2 separate regions of the Homo sapiens genome follow, and region 2 is linked to region 1. A link means that fine-mapping ties the variant in region 1 to the expression of a gene that starts in the linked region. Tissue or cell type: whole blood. Region 1 holds a variant in brackets; the other region holds the start of a gene. All regions are shown on one strand. Distances are between the middles of the regions.

Region 1 (2,840 bases):
GGAAAAGAAAAAACCCCGTCTCTACTAAAAATACAAAAATTAGCTGGGCATGGTGGTGCATGCCTGGAGTCCCCACTACATGGTAGGCTGAGACAGGAGAATCGCTTGAACCCAGGAGGTGGAGGTTGCAGTGAGCTGAGATCGTGCTACTGCACTCCATTCTGGACGACAGAGCAAGACTCTGTCTTTAAATAAATAAATAAAAGTGGGCCGGGCGCAGTGGCTCACATCTGTAATCCCAGCACTTTGGGAGGCTGAGGTGGCCAGACCACCTGAGGTCTCGAGTTCAAGACCAGTCTGGCCAACATGATGAAACCCCATGTCTACTAAAAATACAAAAATTAGCCAGGCGTAGTGGTGGGTGCCTGTAATCCCAGCTACTCTGGAGGCTGAGGCACGAGAATCTCTTGAACACGGGAGGCGACAGTGCAAGACTCTGTCTCAAAAAAAAAAAAAAGTGATAATTCAGCAGCATTTAGTGCATCCATAGTGTTGCTCAACCACCACCGCTATCTAGTTCCGAGAGATTTTCATCACCCCAAAAGGAAACCCCGTATCTATTAGGCAGTTACTCCCCATTTCCCCCTCCCCTGGGCCCCAGTAACCACCAATCTGCTTTCTGTCTCTGTGGGTTCTCCTGTTCTGAACTTTGCACACACATGGAATCATGCAACCGTTGCCCTTTGCGTCTGCCTTTTTGTTTAGTGGAATGTTGTTACGGCTCATCCCTGTTGCAGCCTGCATCTGTGCTCATTTCTTTCTAAGGCTGAGTAATATTCCTTATATGGATCAACCACATTCTATTTACCCATTCGTCCATTGATAGATATTTGGGCCGTTTCCACCATTTGGCTGTGGTGAATCACGCTGCCATGAGCGTGTGTGTACAGGTATCTGTTTGAGTCCCTGTTTTCTATTATTTGGTGTATGTCTAGGCCTGGAATTGTTGAGTCATATGGTAAGTCTGTTTAACTTTTTGAGGAACCACTAAATCAGTATTTTCTTTCTTTCTTTTTTCTTTACTCTGAGGTCTACTGGTTTCACTTATTTATTTGTAATTTTTAGGTTCAGGGGTACATGTGCAGGTTTGTTATAGAAGTAAATTGCAGCCGGGCGCGGTGGCTCACGCCTGTAATCCCAGCACTTTGGGAGGCCAAGGCGGGTGGATCACGAGGTCAGGAGTTTGAGACCAGCCTGACCAACATGGTGAAACCCTGTCTCTACTAAAAATACAAAAATTAGCCAGGCGTGGTGGCACGCGCCTGCAGTCCCAGCTATTCGGGAGGCTGAAGCAGGAGAATCACTTGAACTCAGGAGGCGAAGGTTGTGGTGAGCAGAGATCGCGCCACTGCACTCCAGCCTGGGTGACAGAGCAAGACTCCATCTAAAAAAAAAAAAAAGAGAGAGAGAGAGAGAACATGCTAAACCCAGCATCCTTTTTCTTTTTTTCCTGAGTCTCCCTCTGTCGCCCAGGCTGGAGTGCAGTGGTGTGATCTCGGCTCACTGCCACCTGCCACCTCCGCCTTCCTGGTTCAAGAGATTCTCCTGCCTTAGCTTCCCGAGTAGCAGGGATTACAGGTGGGCACCACCACGCCCGGCTAATTTTTGTATTTTAGTAGAGACAGACTTTCACC[A/G]TGTTGGCTACACTGGTTTTGAACTCCTGACCTCAAGTGATCCGTCCACCTGGACCTCCCAAACACTGGGATTACAGGTGTTTGCCACCGAGCCTGGCCAAACCAGTACCTTCTTAAGGTGCTTGATCAATGTCGGTTTCTTTCTTCCTCCTTGGACCTTTTCATCTCCCAGAAATTACCCCTGTGGTCTCCATTGCCTACAAAGTCCTGGAAGTTTTCCCCAAAGGCCGCTGGGTGCTCATAACCTGCTGTGCACCCCAGCCACCACCGCCCATCACCTATTCCCTCTGTGGAACCAAGAACATCAAGGTGGCCAAGAAGGTGGTGAAGACCCACGAGCCGGCCTCCTTCAACCTCAACGTCACACTCAAGTCCAGTCCAGACCTGCTCACCTACTTCTGCTGGGCGTCCTCCACCTCAGGTGCCCATGTGGACAGTGCCAGGCTACAGATGCACTGGGAGCTGTGGTCCAGTGAGTGCGGTGGGGGGCACAGGGCTGAGGAGGCAGGTGGGGTGCAGATCAATGGGGAGCTCTGGGAGTGGGGATTGTGAACCTTGCTGGGGTTAGAGAGAGCCAGGGTGTGAGGGTGTGGACAAGGACAGGCTGCCACCTCCAAGGCCATTCTCAGTCCCTTGGGGCCTTTAATCAGGACTTGCTGTCCCTGGCTGGGGCCCTGAGGGCACAGTCTCCTGGCAGGGGCCTGAGGGCACAGAGGGAAAGAGCCCGATGGTGGCAGAAATGACTGGGCCCCAGTTGTCAGCTCGGACCTCAAGGTGATAAACTAGGCACGTTTGTCTGGGCGCAAATCCCAGCACTGTGGGAGGCCGAGACAGGCTGATCGCTTGAGCCCAGGAGTTCGATACCAGCCTGGGCAACATGGCGAAACCCTGTTCCTACTAAAATTACAAAGATTAGCTGGGCGTGGCGGGGTGCACCTGTAGTTCCAGCTACTCAGGAGGCTGAGGCAGGAGAATCGCTTGAACCCGGGAGGCAGAGGTTGCAGTGAGCCAAGATTGCGCCACTGTACTCCAGCCTGGGTAACAGAGCGTCTCCAAAAAAAAAAAAAAGAAAAAGAAACGAAAAAAAAGTTAGGCACGTTTTGTGCATTACTTCGCTTGATCTTCACAGCAGTGTCAGGGGTGGGGTCTGAGCCTCTGGGTCTATAGCTATGTAAGCTAAAACTCTGGGGAGTTAAGAAAGTTGCC
Region 2 (2,669 bases), 32 kb before region 1:
TCTGCCGTCACCCGGCACAACTGGAACCAGAGCAGCCTTGTCTGGGGCCCTGGGCTCGGGGCCCGTTCATCTGTGAGAGTGGAGCCAGGACTCAGCTCCCAGCCACCAGCGAGTCCTGCCGGCCTCTGCCCTGGACTCCTCCTGCGCTCACCCTCAGGAACTCAGGGCTCAAAGTCGGCCGGGTTGAAGGGCGCTTTCCTCGGACAGGCAAAGCCCGGGGGCGCCCCGACAGAGCAGCTCCTTGCAGGGGTGCCAGTCACAGGACCGGACGGCGCCCTCCCTCAGTGTCCTGGGTGCCATCTTCGGGCCCAGGCCCCACACCACCCCCTCCCTCCAGCAGGAGCAAAGACGTGGGAAAACCAGCCCAGAGCTGGGTCCGAGGCGGCCCCACCCAGCCTAACACGGGACAGCTGCCGAAAGAGGGGCTGAGGACGCCCCACCCAGTCCCTAGAGCTGGAATCCCTTCCTCCAGACAGGCCCTTCTAAGCTCAGGGAACCCGGGGACTCGGGCACCCAGCGCCCCAGCACTCCGCCCCGAGGCCCAGGCAAGTCCAGCGGAGTTTCCAGGCGCACCATTCCTGAGCTAGGTGGGGAGAGGCTGGGTGGCGCCCGTTTCCAGGAACCCCCACCCCAGCCGGCAGCGAGCTTCCCGGGAGCAGCCGCTACCCAGGGAGAACCGCAACCTGGCCCCAGAGCCCAGAGCGGCTGCAACTCTGGGGCCACCGAACCCGTCCAGCCGGCCTCCCTGTCCCCCGCCCCTTCCCATCCCGGCCACACCCCCTCCCCTCCCCTCCCCGTGCCCTGGCGCTCGGCTGGGGGACCTGGGTGGGGGCTGCGGATTTTGCTCCCCGCACTGTCCTCCCCGCCCCTGCCGCTCCCAGCTCTGTCCGAGCCGGAGGGTCAAGCCCTGGGAGCTCCAGGAGCACCCGGGGAGGGAACTCGGCTGCCAAATGGCCCCAGAGGCCGAAAGGAATTCAGGGGGGATTGCCGCTGTCCCCGCATAGGAGAAGCAGCTGGGGCTGGCGGGACCCGGGACCGGGATCGCGGCCGCTCACCTGGGAGGCGCCGGGGAGGAGGGGCCGCGCGCGCAGCCAGGGCTCACCTGTGCCCCGCAAGAGCCGCCGGGAACTGAGGTCTCGGCTCTCCTTGCCAAGGGAGTGGCAAAGGGCCCCAGGGGCGACTGGGCCAGTCGCAGGTCTGCCGGGGCCGGGGGAGTAGCCGCACCTCCCGGCCCACGTGGGCGGGGGGGGGGGGGGCGGGCCTCGGCTATCACGTGACCCGGCCCGGCCCGCGGCGCCCCCGCCCTCCTCCGGGCGCCCCGCGGCGACTATGCCTTCCTCCCCTGCCAACTTCCGACCCCTCCTCCTGAGGTCTGAGCTGGGCTGGATTCATTCCAGCCCCTGGTTGAAGTCCCCAATTTTTCTGACGCTCAGTTTCCCCAAGTTCCAAAAAGGGGCAATATTTCCAGACTCATCTGCTTCCCATGGTTAGGGATCGTCCAAGTAAGATGCCGCCGAAAGCCCCAGGGACACAGAGTATCTCACTCCAGATTGGGCAGCGCCCCCCCCCCCGCCGCCCCCGCAAGCCTCCTGCTGACTCTCCCCGACCCCGGCGGGGGGAGCCTGGTTATCTCCCACTCCTGACACCTGGGCGGGGTTCATTGTTTATCTAGCAAGAGTTCTGGCTCACTTCCTGTGTGCTGTGTGGAGAGGAGGGGATGAAAAGGAGGACACGCTGACACTTAGGTGACTGTCCCCAGGTGCTGTACCCGTTGCCCTGTTTTCTGTTATTCCCCATGAGCCAGGAAGGTATGCACTGATATTCCCATTTCACAGATGAGGAAACTGAGGCTGAGAGAAGTTAATCACCCTTTAGGGTGCCCCCAGCCAAAGCAGGAGACTTAGTGGTCCACCTGGGAACTCTATGGAGGAAACTGCCTTTGAGATTGTACCCCCCACCCCAAGCCCATTTGGAAGGGAGGGTCATTCCTGGCGGGGAGAAGCCATGAAGCAGGCAGGGTGAATGTGAGCTGGGGCCCAGGAGGGCAGGAGAGGGCACTGCTGCAGGGGAGAGCAGGCAAGCAAAAGCGAGGACCAGGCAGGGGTCAAGGCTGGGGCCTTTTGGAGCTGCCAGTGTGGTCCTCAGATGGCTACCCCAAGCTGGTTCTTGGCAAGTGGCACCCTGGCATGGAGACCCAGCCCCTGCCTCTCCTCCCACTGCTTCCCCCTCCCTGCATACCCACACTGAATTTGCATGAATGCCACCTCCTCTGGGGAGCCTCCCCAGATTGAACCCTGGTGGAGCACCTACCACTTCCTATTGACATGTACATCTGTGGTTCTGTGCCCCCTCCTACCCCAGCCCACTGTGTGCCCAGCACCAGCACATAGCTTGCGCCTGACACACAGAAAGGACTCTGGAAACCAGGAAGGAGGTGGGCAGAGAGGCAGAAAAGCTATGAACATTCAGACCTGAGATGACTGGGCCCTATAGCAGGTAGAGAGGGAGCAGAGAGGAAGGGCTGCGGGCTTCCCAGGGGCCCAAGGACAGAGAATTGGCAAAGATATGTCTTAAACATCTAGCCTGGGAGAGCATGAATGGAGCCAATTCCTGAGCACTTACTACCGGCCAGGTGCTAGGCCTGGGTCTTGGCACAACCATAACGCCAA

The links. PIP is the estimated chance that this variant, and not a neighbour inherited with it, causes the effect.
Region 2: TMC6 starts here. The variant in region 1 is the best candidate, but not a certain one, in a credible set for the expression of TMC6 in whole blood (INTERVAL, PIP 0.83).

The regions. Positions count from the first base shown.
Region 1 is chr17:78,159,149-78,161,988 of GRCh38, forward strand. C17orf99 (chromosome 17 open reading frame 99) reads left to right here. Exons shown (of 5, transcript NM_001163075.2): 3 at 1,807-2,106. Among named protein-coding and RNA genes, the nearest start is that of SYNGR2, 8.0 kb to the right of the region's middle. RefSeq lists an enhancer at 762-921 and silencers at 1,142-1,191, 1,232-1,281. The variant A/G (reference allele first, on the strand shown) is at 1,635.
Region 2 is chr17:78,127,557-78,130,225 of GRCh38, forward strand. TMC6 (transmembrane channel like 6) reads right to left here and starts at 1,199. Exons shown (of 20, transcript NM_001127198.5): 1 at 1,056-1,199. RefSeq lists an enhancer at 1-82 and a silencer at 763-1,292.